Regions from separate parts of the Homo sapiens genome. Here region 2 is linked to region 1. The links come from fine-mapping of genetic effects on gene expression. Tissue or cell type: whole blood. Region 1 holds a variant in brackets; the other region holds the start of a gene. All regions are shown on one strand. Distances are between the middles of the regions.

The links. PIP is the estimated chance that this variant, and not a neighbour inherited with it, causes the effect.
Region 2: it holds the start of CREB3L2, and the variant in region 1 is fine-mapped to the expression of CREB3L2 in whole blood (TOPMed, PIP 0.98).

The regions. Positions count from the first base shown.
Region 1 is chr7:137,910,620-137,918,748 of GRCh38, forward strand. CREB3L2 (cAMP responsive element binding protein 3 like 2) reads right to left here. Exons shown (of 12, transcript NM_194071.4): 3 at 5,218-5,393; 4 at 2,372-2,459. Among named protein-coding and RNA genes, the nearest start is that of CREB3L2-AS1, 39 kb to the right of the region's middle. RefSeq lists an enhancer at 6,633-6,682. The variant T/C (reference allele first, on the strand shown) is at 4,010.
Region 2 is chr7:137,997,796-138,005,924 of GRCh38, forward strand. It overlaps CREB3L2 (cAMP responsive element binding protein 3 like 2), which reads right to left and starts at 4,291. Exons shown (of 12, transcript NM_194071.4): 1 at 3,809-4,291. The coding sequence starts at 3,910. LOC124901752 (a long non-coding RNA gene) reads left to right here and starts at 4,512. Exons shown (of 3, transcript XR_007060551.1): 1 at 4,512-4,595; 2 at 6,761-7,036. RefSeq lists enhancers at 2,355-2,694, 3,316-3,914, 3,831-3,970, 3,915-4,512, 4,061-4,150 and 2 more.

The sequences.
Region 1 (8,129 bases):
GCTGTTACATTCCCAAGAACTAGCCAGGAGTACCTAGAGCCACCCTGTCCCTTTCACTTGGTAGGGGCCAAATTATTCTAATACCGTTCTCCCGTCCAAGCAGAGGGCACCCCACAAAAGACAGAAAGAGAATTTGAAGCAAGTGAAGCAAGTAAAATCTTGTCTTTCCTATCTATTAAGAGCTACAGAGCTGGCCAGAGGCACCTCAGGATCAGATTTCTAAATATCATTTGAAATGCTGCTTTTGGGTTACTGCAAGGTCTGGGGACAACAAGCTACTGTGCCTAGAAACTGATGCAGTCAAGGATATTGAATTTCCTTATCTCAGTTTATCCAGGATAATGAGGAAGGGCTGTCCTTAACTTCATTCTTGAAACATTTCTCCTCCAATAACCCTGGATTCAGAAGCCACTATGGGATTCATTGTTATGGTGATGACACTTCTGAACCACATCACAGCATAAATTAAAAGAGTAAGATGCATTTGATAGTAATAACTGGTGTTATACAAACGAAAGCAATTACTTTGAAGCAGTACATAAAGCTGAAAGGCACTACTGTCTGTCACTCAGTGCAAAGACATAGTGTCTCAATATGGATTCTAAGTATTAACTTTTACTAAGTAAATAAGTATTATTTACTAAGTATTATTTCACTAAGTATTATTAACTTTTAAAATTTAATCCTTTCTTTATTGATAATAAAGGCAAATAAAGGGCCAGCCCTGATTACATTGTTACAAACCAAATCCTGAGTTAGTTTCTAATGGAATGAAGACAGACGATATTTTCATGAGAAGTGCTCATATGTAAACATCCTCACATTTATATACCGTAGCAAATATACCTTTTCGGTGACAACTGTATAAGCCAATTTCTTATTTGTTGACCACAGTAGTGAACTGTACTTTGAAATTTGTACTGAAAGTATGAATGGGACCGGGTGAGGTGGCACATGCCTTTAATCCTAACACTTTGGGAGGCCAAGATGGGAGGATCACTTGAGCTCAGGAGTTTCAGACCAGCCTGGGCAACATGGTGAAACCCTATCTCTACAAAAAATACAAAATTTAGCTGGGCGTGGTGGTGCATGTCTGCAGTCCCCGCTACTTGGGAGGCTGAGGTGGGAGAATCGCTTGAACCCATGAGGTTGAGGTTGCCATGAGCCATGATGGCACTACTACACTCCAGCCTGAGCAACAGAGTAAGACCCTGTTTCACACACAAAAAATAAATAAATAAAAAGTATGAATGAAAAGGGAAGTGATGGCATGAGTGAAGGCACAGAAGTGAGAAGAGCAGGATGTATGCCGGAGAATCTGCATACGCAAGGCAGAGAGAGCTTCATTAGACCTCATGAGGCTCAGGGGTCTGCATCCAGGATTCCTAACTATGGGCTTCATAGGAGAACAAAGAGGGAGAAACTCAGAAAGAAACTGACATAGAGAAAGATAAATATAGAAATATAACAACCTTGGCCAGGCGTGGTGGCTTATGCCTGTAATCCCAGGACTTCAGGAGGCCGAAGCAGGCGGATTGCCTAAGGCTGAGAGTTCAAGACCAGCCTGACCAATGTGGCAAAACCTCGTCTCTACTAAAAATACCAAAATTAGCTGGGTGTGGTGGTGCACGCCTGTAATTGCAGCTTCTCAGGAGGCTGAGGCACAAGAATCGCTTGAACCTGGGAGGCAGAGGTTGCAGTGAGCCGAGATGGTGCCATTGCACTCCAGCCTGGTAACAGAGTGAGACTCTGTCTCAAAAAAAAAAAAAAAAAAGTATGATCACCTCAAGGATGTGTTAATTCTAAATGGATGGATGTCAAGAAGCCCAAAAAGATGCACAATTGTGAACCATGAACATGACCAAATAGAGAGGGGGCTCCTTGCAATAGTTGTCATTCAAAGTCAATGTTTACAAACAATGAATTGGCCACATAATTAATTGTGAATTTACTTCACAAAGAGTTGAAACTAGAGTTGTTTGAAATAAGCAAGGTGCTTTTGTAGATGGTTGTTGATTTGTGGGGCTACGTAGGGTTCACGCCTGGATGAATAAGGGCTGCAGTTCTCTTGTTCGATAGTGTTTGTAGTAGCAGTCCATAAAAGTTTTGAAAAATATCACCCTGGTTAGAAGTAAAAGTATGGTAACACTTAGCTGAAATTTAATCACGTGCATATATGGGAAAATAATAGTTAGCTTGCAAAATTTTTATTTGGAAGCAAAATTTTTATTTTTTAAGAACAGAGCTATTTCATAAAGCCAGCTACAACATCTGTGGTACAAACTCATCCCAGCTCTCTCGCCATATTCCCTCTCTGTAGACCCAGAGACCATATCCATAACCCAAAGGGACACAGGGAGGGCAGACAGACCTTCTTTAGGAGAGAAGTTTAGAAACTGATCCACTTCATGAGGCTCCAGCTTAATTTTAGGAATAATGGTCTGGCACGAGGAATCAACCTGGAGGAAGAATTTCAAACACAATTTTTAAAAACCAATCACAGCCTTGAAGACACATGCAGGAGAGCTATTTGTCACCTGTGTCTTCCTCTCGGGACAGCCCTGCCTATCCTGGAGAATAGCTGAGTGTAGGCAACTTCCCTGACAGGGAGTCATTTTAGTTCTTAACCTTTTTCTCATTGCCAAACTTGGCATTACAGCTGACAGGACCTTCAGAACTTCCTTGAGACCACCCTGGGTAACATAGTGAGACAACGTCTCCCCAAAAAAATACAAAAATTAGCCAGTTGTGATGGCGTGCACCTGCAGTCCCAGCTACTTGGGAGGCTGAGGCAGGAGAATCACTTGAACCCAGGAATTTGAGGCTGCAGCGAGCTGTGATCATACCATTGCACTCCAGCCTAGGTAACAGAGTGAGACCCTATCTCAAAAAAAAAAAAAAAGAAAAAAGAAAAAAAAAGAAAAAGAAAAACACTCAGAACTCTAAAGTTGAAAGCCAAATGCTCAAGCCCAAAACTATATCAATATTCTTTTCTATGTTTTTATAGTACTATAAAGGCATTTTATTACAAAATATTCTGGTACTTTTTTTTTTGTGGCATCATTCTGCTAACTTTATTCTTTATACATAGTTTGGGTAAAGTAAGAACCAAACACTGCTTCCACTCCCCCTATCCTCACTCCACTTTGGGGGCTTTAAAAAGCAACTTATAGTTGATACTGGTGAGGATTCCCAAGACTACAGAATTTAGTTGTAGAGCGTAACTGTGCATTTGATCACTGAAAGAAAATAAGAGACCTTCTAAGAGGTGGTGACCTTAGCAGAATAAGGAGGGGCCAGGGGGTCTCTTATCCCAGTTCAGCCTCACACCAGCCTGGGAGTTTTCCCTGCCTGCAACGTAAAGCAGCCTGTAAATTACATATAGCCACAATGCACTTAAATCGAGTCAATCACCATGGAAAATGGGAACTAAATTTTAAAGAGTCAAAGGCCTCCACCAGCTTGCCCTGGGGTAGGGACTGTGCACCAAGCCACATCCTTTCTCTTATATATAACTTTATTAATATTAATAATTAATAATGTTATAATACAATTAATATAATTATTAATAATTAATATTAATGATGTTATTATTAAGGCTTCCTAATGACTGATGGTATCTAATCACGAAAATCCTGGTAGGGAAAGGAGAAAAGTTATCTGGCCCATACACAGGAGCAAGGCCATGCCTCTGAGCTTTGCTAGTTACATACTTTACAATAATTCAACTAGGCCGGGCATGTGGCTCACGCCTGTAATCCCAACACTTTGGGACGCTGAGGTGGGCGGGTCACTTGAGGTCAGGAGTTCGAGACCAGCGTGGCCAACATGGTAAAACCCCATCTCTACTAAAAATACAAAAATTAGCCAGGCGTGGTGGCTGGTGCCTGTAATCCCAGCTACCTGGGAGGCTGAGGCACAAGAATCACTGAACCCGGGAGGCGGAGGTTGCAGTGGGCTGACATCATGCCACTGCACTCCAGCTTGGGTGACAGAATGAGACTTCTGT[T/C]TCAAAAAAAAAAGTAATAAATAAAGTAACTAAAATTCTGTGGAGCAAGGAGACTAATATAGACCAGAGAGCCCAGCCTAATAAAGAGACTCAGGTAGCTACTGAGAAAGGAATCCTAGCACACTTGCAGAGGCCTCTGTCTACAACCCTTCATCATCTACACAGATGGACTGACAAGGGAGTAAGCAGTGACACTTTAATGAGTCTACTGATTCTGTGTTACCATATTCTGAACAGGTAGACACTACATCTTTTTTTCTTTCTTTCTTTTTTTTTATTTCTTGAGACAGAGTCTTGCTCTGTTGCCCAAGCTGGAGTGCAGTGCCTCGATCTCGGCTCACTGCAGCTTCCGCCTCCCAAAGTGCTGGGATTATAGGCATGAGCCACCGTGCCCGGCTGCAGATAGACATTCTATCTTGCTCACAAGAAATCTGACTTAAGGAATGTTAATGAAGTTGTTGTTTATAACCTGAAGCTTTGAACTTAAGGGAAGCTAAGACAGGCTTCCAACACTTGCAAGAAGATGTACAAATACAATGCTGGTCCATGGCCAGACACTGGAAATATCCAGAAAGAAGGTAGAGTAGAATTAAATTCTACTTGCGGTAGGCATGGAATCTAGTAAGGAAAAAATCCTGATTTCTTATGCTTTCCACGGGTAACACAATAATAGGTGTTATTATTACTATTACTATTATTATAATGTTATTAATATTGTTAATATTATTCATATTATTATATGAATCAATACGTGGGACATTCCTGACTTGAGTAAGGACAACTCAGCATCTCACTAGGAAAGTAAAATATTACACAGGAGCTCACATTCCCAGTAGCCATGCACTGTAAGCCATGGATTACATCACCACTTCAATCACTCCCTTTCCACTGCTTAAAAATCAGTGCCATAGAGAAATTTTTTTTACCATAGATATTTTCTGTGTTTTTTATTTTGTAACAGTAATCAAAAAGAGAATGAAATCAGCTTAGCTACTAATTTTTTCCGAACAATGGCTTTAAAGGAAGTTGGCACCAAATCAACATACCCTTATTAAATGTATACATATGTATATACACACATATGAAGTTGCATGTCCTTAAATGTACACAGCCACTAACTCCAAAAAGATTAAACACCTTATTGGAGAATGAGGATCTATCTGTATCTTTTAATCCAACCTGTTTAAACAGACGAAAATTGAGCATACCCCAGTGTTCATTTCCAGAGGAGGTTCCTCCTTTTCCAACGGGGTGGAGATGGCTGTGATGGTCAGAGTGACAGACGGAACGAGTCCTGGGGGTGGTTCGTCTGTAACTGGCTCTGTCTTGATGGATGTTGAAGGGAAGTCTGTAGACAGGTACCATTTCTCACTTTCCACCTCATCTGCAGGAAAAAAGACAAGCACACATGTGAACTTGTTCAGGGCATCAGGCATAAGCAAAACAAGCGACCACTAGTCTTTCTCCCCAAAAAAGCTCAGTGAAGGATGATTGAAAGTAGAATAAAAGAAAATGAAATATGTGAGGGAAAAGATTGATAGATATGAACAGCAAAGAAAGAATCTATACTTGTATTCGCTTGCATGTGAGTATGCCTAAAGAAACTCTGGAAGGAATCCATAGAAAAGAAAGAAACTTGGCTTCCTGAGAAAGGCAGGAAGAAACCTGGGTTGATGGGGAATAGAATAGGAGGGAGGATTTTGAATATGTAATGAGCTACTCTTTTTGGTTGTCAAATCATGTAAATGTATTATCTATTCAAAAATAGATAAATAAGCACATTTAAAAACATGAAAGAAAGAAGCAGCCGGGCACAGTGGCTCACGCAAGTAATCCCAGCACTTTGGGATGCCAAGGCAAGAGAATTGCTTGAGCCCATGAGTTCAACACCAACCTGGGCTACAATGCAAGACTCTGTCTCTACAAAAAAAAATTTTTAACTAGCTAGGTGCAGTGGTGAGCATCTGTGGTCCCAGCTACTTGGGAGGCTGAGGCAGGAGGATTGCTTAAACCAGGAAGTCGAGGCTTCAGTGAGCTGTGATCACATCATTGTACTCCAGAGCCTGGGCAACAGAGTGAGACCCTGTCAAGAAAGAAAGAGAGAGAAAGGGAAGGGAGGGGGAGGGGGAGCGAGAGAAAGCAAGAGTGAGAGTGAGAGTGAGAGCGAGAGCGAGAGCGAGTGACAGCGAGAGCGACAGAGAGAGAGAGAGAAGCAAGCAAATGGTTGGTAACCAACGGGAGAAGATGAGAGAACATGGTGAGTAGGTCTCTCTCTCCTTCTCTCCAAAGGAAAGTTATTTGGTTTTTTGATATTTTTTCTTCTCACTCCATTTTTTTGTTTGTTTTTGTCCTCTTCTGTTTTCACTGTGATCCCACCTAGCCTTAAACCTAACTTAGACTTTCAGAGACTCTGCTTAGCCCTTTGGGAGACTTTGGTTTGTAATAACCATCTGCCCTTTGCTGAAATGGACAAAATACTCTTCCTGAGAAAACAGCTGCATCTTGGTGAGTCTGGGTCTTGTCTTTCCTGATTATCACCAGGCCTGGAGATAGCTAACAACCGAGAGACAAGACGGAACAGACAGAGTGCCTCTGCCACTTAATGCACATTCTTCTCAGAGTCTAAAAGAATAAGAATTTGTATTTCTTAACAAGTTACTTTGGAGCTAGCGCTCAGCACTGCCTGGAAAAGCCGGGAGGAGGGAAGGAAAGGAAACGACCAGAGGGTTGGAAACAGCCACAGAACAAGACAAAGCAAGCCAAAGGCAACGTTCCTTAGCTGATACCAGTTTTACTAAAATGAGGCTAAAATAAAGCAAAGACACGCTCCTTTGCTTTCTCAAAATGCTTACACACATACACCACATTTCACATACTTAGTGACCCATGACTGTCAGGAGAGCAAAGTCGTTCACATTATAAATTTATTTTACATTCAAGAATGTGACTCCAGTTTTCTTATGAAAAGGTACAATCATTTAGAACCGCTAAGAAGAAGGGAAGGGTAGACACAGAAACTAAGAACTAAAATCTACGATTATTAAAATTATGTTTCATAAGTGACTTCTTTAAAGCACAAAAATGTTAGGTTCATATTTGAGGAATGATTTCCCCCTTAAATCCAGTTTATAATTGATGAATTATCCCAGCCTCAATTTATTTCCCAAGGTGAAATAAAGACAGGATGGGCAGGTGGTGGAAGATGTTTTGCTTTTAGAGTGGGGCTGCTGAGTGCTATGGTGTGACGGGGATTTCCATCCTTCATGGGGTGTGCGCCACATCCTGGTGGAAGGGGAGGGCGGGGGAACAAAGGGCTCTCTGATGGCGGCCAGAGGAGGGAGACCACTCTGTACTGGACTCAGACCGTGCCCCAGCTCAGCCCAGAGATGGAGCAACTGGACCACGAGCCAAAAGATTCCGTTGACTCTCCCCAAAGGAGCTTAGGAGCTAGAAGACAATGTCCGCTGCAAAGAACACCCGCTTAGGACAGTTAGGGAAGGGCTGGAGAGACAGAGACCGCATAGATCCCATTTTTTCCATTCGGCAATGACATGGTGATGCTTTTGCTTTTTGTTTTGTTTTGAGACATTCTTGCTCTGTCACCCAGGCTGGAGTGCAGTGGCACCATCTCGGCTCGCTGCAAACTCCGCCTCCCGGATTCAAGCGATTCTCCTGCCTCAGCCTCCTGAGTAGCTGGAATTACAGGTACACGCCACGACGCCCAGCTAATTTTTATATTTTTAGTAGAGACGGGGTTTTGTCATGTTGACCAGGCTGGTCTTGAACTCCTGACCTCAGGTGATCGGCCTCCCAAAGTGCTGGGATTACAGGTGTGAGCCACCGTGAACAGCCATGCTTTTGCTTTTTGAAGTCAACACTTAAAGCCTGCCCACACTGAGTAATATTTATCCCTGGCAAAGGCTGGAAGAAAGACGGTAGGATGAAATATAGCCTCAGTACAGGCTGAAATGGACGGTAAGGAAGCATCCCTGAGAAAAAGGTCGCACACAATTACCAGGAAATTGTGAGATAAGGCCAGATCCCTTGACTGTGCAGTGAAGGCAACTGTGATGAAACTTAATTCACAAGGCAAACAAAAGAAGAGGCAAAAGTTAAAAAA
Region 2 (8,129 bases), 87 kb after region 1:
TTTCAGAGAATTTTATAGGAATACAATACAAATGGCAGAAATGTCCAACATACAGGCAGGTCTGGGGAAAGAGGCAAGGTTTCTTCTCACGGTGGTACCGAACCCCAAGAGATATTCTCCTGATTTCTAGATTTGCCATCTTTTCTGAACCAATTTTAGCCTGTATTCCATCTTGAAGCAACAGCTTTCCTAAAATCAGTACTCACTGAATTAAAATAACATTTCATCATCTGTATGGAAACAATTTTTTAAGCTTCAAGAGGAAGCCCAGAGCTTTAGCAATTCAGGATCTAATGATCAGTCCATCTTTGCCCTATCCATATGCTTCATTATTTTGTAGACTCTGAACCTGTCTGCCTTTGTCCTTGTAGACCAAGATGTCTTCATAACTAACCAAATGAAAAAAAACATTGCTCCTAACGGTTAACAGAAGGCTCCTGAGAAACATCATAATCTCAGCCTTGGGTAACTTGAACATTCTAAATTGTTTAAATCAAGTATGTGACAGGTTTGCTAAAACAGAGCATTAGCAATCATGCATGTAGTAACTAAATCCCTAGTAAGAGCAACAAAAGTGATCTCACTAGGAAGGTTTGGTGGCTGCCACTGTCAGCCTCATTTAAACATTAGCTGCTTTCAGGCTCAGCAGTTCCTATATTCCAATCACTCTCTCCCAACCTCTTATTCAGTTCCTTCTCTTTAAGTCAGGATTCTTCACTCAGACAGCCTGATAGGCAAGTACTTGCAGGCAGGCAAACATGGGTTTGAATCCTGGTTCTATCACTAAATAGCTGTGGGAACTGAGCCAAGTGGCTTAAACTCACGAAGCCTCATTTTTCTTATATGTAAAATAAAAGTAATAAAAATGGCTCATTTCACTGGGTCATTACAAGGGTTAAATGGCATAATATTTGTAAAGCACTAGACACAATGTCTTTCAGCAGGACCAGCTACGTAATTTGTGAAACCCAGTGCAAAATGAAAATGTAAGGTCCCCAGTTCAAAAAGAATTAAGATTTTCAAGATGGTGACAGCACAGCATCAAACCAAGTGTGGACCCCGTGGCACTGCATGGGTGGCAGGCCATGTGGTCAGCCCTGCCTTTCGGATGATAAACACTCAATAGATGGTAGCTGTCATCATCTCTTACCACCCTCACAACTCGTATTTGAACCTCACCCTCCCCTCAGGCTCTCTTCAACTTGGAAAGTTTTATGAAATCATTCCAAAAACAGGCACTGGTGTCTCAGAAGCACCCAGAGTTTATAAGACAAATAACTCACCAAAATGAGTAATCTGAAATACATGATATTAACACAGTCTCATGAAAATGCACACCTACCTTAGGCCTTTGCTCTAGTTCTTCATCCTGCTGAGCTAACACTCTTACCTCCTTCCAATTTTTGTTCAGATCCATTTTCTATGGGAAGCTTGCTCTGATCACTCAGTTCAATCCCATAGTTTGCTCTTCTTCCACCTTGTATTCTCTATCCCCCTCACCTTGTTCTACTTATACGTTTTCCATAACACTTATTTCATCCAACATAATCACTTCTTTATAATGTTTATTGTTTATGTTCCCCTACACACACACACACACACACACACACACACACACACACACGAATATAAGCTTCTAGAAGTCAGGGATTTTGTCTGCTTCTGTTCACTCATGTTTCCAAGTGCTTTATATATTCCACAAATATTAATCGAAAGAACAAATATCTCTCTGACTGAATGAATAATCAGGCCATCCTTTTTCTACATAAAGATTCAGCTAGAGTAACAAACAGCTCTGCCCCTGGATATCTAACAGAGTTCAGGAAACAGATGGGAAAATTATCTCCCCACCTCTCCCAAACGTCCCTTAGTTTGAGAGAAATATAACCCAATCATTTGTGCTGCTAAACCAATACCTCTTTCAACAGTAATTCATATGCACAGTTTGTTGCACTGACTTGCAGCAATGATGAGCAGCATTTTACAGGAATGAGCTGTTCACAACAGACATGTACCTAAGTGGAGGACATAATAAGCATTTTTTAAAAATAGAAATAAAAGAAAAATAATCACACATTCCTGCTTTATCACAATGACAGAAAAACTGGGCTGTTAATATCAAAGCAAATGTAAGGCCTCTACTCCCTGAAAGTGTGCATAAGGTGTTAGTTAGAGCCAGTCCAAGCAGTTCTTCCCAGAGTGAATGCCACAGTCACGGGTAGCATCTCGCACCTTTCCCTGTGAACTCACAAATGCAAGCTACAGGGCCAAAGAACAGCAAGGTAGATGCCTGTGCGTAATTCATCCCACCAGCTGAAAGACAACCCCCTAGCTGTGGCATTGCAGCTGCTGGATGAGACACTGTCACAGCGAAAGAATACTTCAAGAACAAAAGAGAAGGGCTGCCCCTCTGCATATGGATAAAATGTAGCCTGTCAGTAGAAACTCCTGGAGCACCCATTCATCAAAAGATATTTGAGGAACAACATACTCCAAGTTCTTTACTGAGGACAGGAAGCACATCTGGTACCCCAACCTCCGTGCTGCCCACATAGTGTCCCCATGACAAGCTCAGCAAGCAAAGCCCAGAAGATCACACTGAACATCTGGCTTTTGCCCCAGCATGAACTACCACTCCCTCTCAGCCCTGCACTCTGCATTTTTTTTAAACAAGCCACTCTCAGCCACCACAAATACTTCGGTGGGAATCAGCAGGGAGGCCCTCATTCCTTGTCTCAAAATAACGTCAGCCAGAGTCAAAGGCCAAAGAGGTGGAGCCTGCAGGCCATTTTGCGAAAGTTTCAAATATCTTGGTACTGACCCCATTAAAAAAGCGTGAAGGGGAAGCAGCCAAGCCTCCAGTGGTTTTCTCATTAGTGTCCCCCCTCACCCCAGCCCCACCCCCATTACAAACGTCTGCATGGATAAGAATCAAACAAAGAGATCTTGCATAAAGTCCTATGATCAGTGCTGGCTATTGAAAACAAAATTTCATTTTGCAAACTTAATACCAAAAACTTGACATTAAAAACTTTAAAAGAAATGTGCGTGCTCTGGGACAGCTTAATCCCCCAAGAGATCTCTGAGGCATTAGTATAAGACTGAACAAGCAACTGGTGAGCTGTCCCACCTTCCCCAGAGCCTTTCTTAAATATGCAACTGTCTCAGATTTTCCATACTCCTCTGCTGGTTTTTCCTCCGAAGAGGGAGGAAGGAGACTTCTTGGTCGTACAGTTTAAGAAAGCAAATAAAGCCGCCTTTCTCCCTAACGTAGAGGAGCCCTTTCAACACACACACACACACACACACACACACACACACACACACACACGTGTACTTTTTAAAATATAAATATGAAAGAAGAGGAAGGGAGGGAGAGAGGGAGAGAGAATACGAGACAGATGAAAAGGAAATGCTACTTAATCTTGTCCAGTTTTTGAAAACCTCAAAAAAAAATCAATAGCAAACTAGGCGGAGGCATGTTATTCTCAAAACACACACTCCCTCTCCCGCATTACAGTACTGTTAACAACAGCAAATGATATTACAGATGGAAAAAGCCTCAGGGAAAAAAGCATGAATTGTTAAAGGAATACAAAGTGGCATTACTCTCATGAGAAATGTAAAGGGGCCAGCTGCCCGCCTTCATCTGCTCAGACATTAAAGTACACCTCGCCCAGGACCTCTTGATTCTGACCATGCCCTGCCCCAAACCCTGCCTTCCCGGGTCCCAGGACTCCAGCTGCTCCTCGCGTGACAACACTTGCCCGCTTTGAAAGCCCTCCTGCCCCGCCCGCCGGGTCCTCACCGTGTGGTACATGAGGGCCTCGCCGTCCCCGGGCTCTGACAGCTCGCTCAGCTTGCGGTCCCACTGCAGCACGCCCTGCTCCCCGCTCTCCAGCACCTCCATGGCGGTGCGGGCCGCGCTGGGCCGAGGATGCTAAGCGCAGGAGGGGACGCGCAGAGCTGCCTCGGACCGGCAAGGTTCCTCTCTCTCCGCGTGTGCTTGCGTGTGTGCGCGCGCGTGTCTGTAGTTTTGCACTTGGAAAGCAAACGTCTGCTCCTCTGCCGGAGAGAGGATGGCCAAGCGCTCCCGTCCGGTGTCCTCGGAGATCCGAGAATCCCCAGGGACACGAGCCGGACCAAAGGCTGCCGGGGCTAAAGCGGGATGTGCATCCAAAATGAAGGCAGAAGACCCGCTCTCATCCCAGGAAAATCCCTTAGCCGCAAGCCCACTTGCCGCTACGGCTCCAGACACAAACTTTGAGGGACCCCAGGGCTCCTCGGCTCTGCTCCAGGACCCAGCTGCGGCCCCACCTCCCTCCAAGGCTTGACCAATTGGATATCCGCCTTGCCTAGCAGACCCAATCAGAAGTCTCATTCTCGGCTTTGTCCCGCCCCCAAAGGCAGAGGCCGCGGGAAGTCTCCGCCCACGCCTTGGAATGTAGCCGGGGAGTGTCTGTGACGTCACCGAGGAACTCCTCCTGCTTGAGCGCGGCCCGCTGTCTGCTGTCGCCTACAGCTGACCAATAGAGGGCTTGGGTCCGGAAGTGATGGACTGGAGGCTTGACTAATGTGAAAGGGGCGTCTGAAAGGTACAGCCAATGAAATAGCGACAAGAATACATTTTGTAAAAGAGGGAGGGTGAGTTCAGTCCTCTTGCTGAGAATCCTCAGAAATTTACCAGCGCGCCGACAGGGGGCGCGAGAGTTGTTGCGCGGGGGGCTTAAACATTTTCGAGTACTTTAGTTCATTTGAATCTCTCGGAATTTTTTTAATGGATTACATATTATACAAAAATACAAATATTCCTCATGCACATACATTTATATTAGTGCAGCTCTAGGAAATTGTCATTGTTCTTCACCTTTTTCGCCCATTTTCTGTTGGGTTCTTCTATTTTTTATGGACTTCACTTATTGTATGTTTTTCTTTCATCTGCTTGATAAGAGTCAATGGCATGCTTTTCCAGGTCCTACAGAAGTGAGCCCAGTCCTTGAATTCATAGAGCTTTTATCTCAGAGGAGTCAGGCAATAAACAAAGAAATAAACATTTAAATTCAGAAAGTGGAAATTGCTATAAAGAAAAATAAAAGCAGGAAAACAGGATGCGTCAAGATCGATGCTATTTTACGTGCTGATCAGGGAAGTTCTTCCTAAAGGAAATGAGATTTCGGGGGAAGCTGGTATTCACGTGATTGCTGGGGAGGCCAGTGTGGCTGCAGCAGAGGTGCTTGGCAGGGAGGGGTGGGAAAGGCCAGAAAGGTGAGCCAGGGCCAGAGCACCAGGCCTGCCTCCTAGAATAGGGAAGAGATGGCCTGTTCTAAAGGAATTCCCCCGAACACTGTGATTCTTCTTCCTCCTTTTTAATTCCAAAAATATAGTTTACCTATCTTAAATATAAAAGCAGGTCTTTGCCAGTTAGCTCTAGAAGTTTCTTACAATGGCACATTCAGGTATTAGCTATTGTGTTGTTTCCTTGGCAAGTATTTTTTGGCGGGTGGAGACAAATGTCTTTGAACTCTATGTTGTCTTTAAAGCAGCAGTTTATCATATAAACTATTGCATTTGTCTGGTCCTATCTTCTGGGGTCTTTTGAGATTTTTTTTTTTTTTTTTTTTTTTTTGAGACAGTCTCACTCAGTTACCCAGGCTAGAGTGCAGTGGCACGATCTCAGTTCACTGCAGCCTCCACCTCCTGGGCTCAAACAGTTCTCCTGCCTCAGCCTCCTGTGTAGCTTGGACCACAGATGTGCACCACCACACCCGGCTAATTTTTAAATTTTTTGTAGAGGCAAGATCTCACTTTGTTGCCTGGGCTGGCCTCAAACTCCTGGGCTCAAGCAATCCTCTCTCCTGAGTCTCTCAAAGTGCTGAGATTTAAGGCATGAGCCACCACGCCCAGCTTTTGAGATTATTTTAATGCTTAAATAGAAGCTCTAGTTTATGGGCACACACCTTCCTTATATAATAGTTTTCTCATTTTTCTCTTAGGTTCTTGGTTTTTCTTTTCCAGCCTGGTATCCCCTTCATCACATTCTTTCCATAGATTGCTCTTTCCATTTTTAAAGACCTTTCTTATTTTTTTAATCTGTCACTCAATGTACAATGGGATTACATCCACATAAACCCATCATAAATTGAAAATATCGTAAGTCAAAAATGCATCTACTATACCTAACCTATCAAACATTATAGCTTAGCCTAGCCTACCCTAAGATGTGCTCAGAACACTTATATTAGCCTACAGTTGGACCAAATCATCTGGCAACACAGTACTAGTTATTTACTGTCATGATTGTGTGGCTGACTGGGAGCTATGGCTCCCTTGCACCAGGAGAGAATACCATATTGCGTATTGCTAGCCCGGGAAAAGATCAAAATTCAAAACTCAAAGTACAGCTTCTACTGAATGCATATCTCTTTCACACCATCATAAAGTCAGGAAATCATAAGTCATAAGTCAGGAACCATCTGTACCTCTTCCTTAATGTAGGAATACAAACATTTATCCGTGAAGCATTTCTGCTTTTGACAAAGTCTAATCCTGCTTATACCCCATGTAGTAGCCAGTTTCCAAGATGGCATCTAGTGATCCCACTTCCTGGTGCTCACGCTCTTGTGTAATTCCCTCCTCTTGAGTCTGGGCTAGACCTGAGGACTTTCTTCTAACAGAATATGCCAAAAACGAGAAGATGTCAAAAAGATTATGGCTCCTGACTTGCTTGTTTCCTCTTCCTCTCTTGCTTGCCTGCTTTAAGAGAAGCCAGCTGCCATGCCATGAACTGCAATGTGAAAAGGCCAATGTAGCAAGGATATGTCCAGCCAACAGCCAGTGAGGATCTGAGGCCCTCAGACCAGCAGCCCATGAGCAACTGAATTTTGCTAATAACCATGTAAGTGAACACAGAAGTGGATCCTTCCCCAGGCGAGCCTTCATAAGTCCACAGACCCAGTCAAGACTTTGACTGCAGCCTTGTGAGAGCCCCTAAGCCAGAGGACCCAGCTAAGCCACGTTCAACTTCCTGACCTGTCAGGTAATAAATGTATGTTGTTTTAAGCCACTAGGTTTTTCCTTTGTAAAATATGTATTATGATCATTGGCACCCTAAATGGTTTGGTTAAACTTACCTGTACTCTAATAATAGCATCACAATCCCTCGTGGTGGGTTTCTCCAGCCTCCTTTGTTTCACGTATACTTCTCTGTTAAATGTACACACAACTTCTTACCAGCCTGTCTTCCTGTTTTGCATTTTGAAAATGAAATTCTTTCCCTTTTCATCTCCTTAGAACTTAGCAATGTAGTTGACTCTCCTTCCAGCTTCGCTGGCATCCTTGTTCTGCTGTCTGTTATTAATAGATTCATGGCACTTGCACGACTGGAAGTCATACTCTCCCAAAATGAAAATCAGATGCATTAGCCAACAAGACATTTCTCTGATTTTTTTCTGATATTATTTGCTATCTTTCCATGTGTCAGTCTATTTACAAATTTGTTCTATGTGCTTTCTATACCTTCATCTCAATTATTAAGATAAATTGTATCTAGAATTGGGCACTTGACAGATCCCCCACATCATGAAAATAGAATCCGCCTTCCAAGTTCTCATGGTCCCATTCATCGGCATGCTTTTTATTTGACTACTCGATAAAAATTAATCTATTGAATTTTCCTTTTTCACGTCCTGTACTTTTTCAGTTTATCCACAGGGATAACTGTTAAGTACCTGCTTAATTCCAGACACCATTGTGTATACATTTTTCCAGGTTTAAAACTCTGTTAAAAAAAGACATGGGGCCGGGCATGGTGTCTCATTCCTGTAATCCCAGCACTTTGGGAGGCCGAGTTGGGAGGACTGTTTGAAGCCAGGAGTTTGAGACCAGCCTGGACAATATAGCAAGCTATCTCTACAAAAAATTTTAAAACTTAGCTGGACGTGGTAGCACACGCTTGTAGTCCCAGTTATTTGGGAGGCTGAAGCAGGAGGATGGCTTGAGCCGAGGAGGTCAAAGTTGCAGCAAGCTATAATTACCCCACTGCACTCCAGCCTGGGAAAGTCTGCCTAAGCCAACGTGAAAAGGCTGTGCAAAGGCATCCCTGGTGCCACATCCTGACACCGGCACATGAC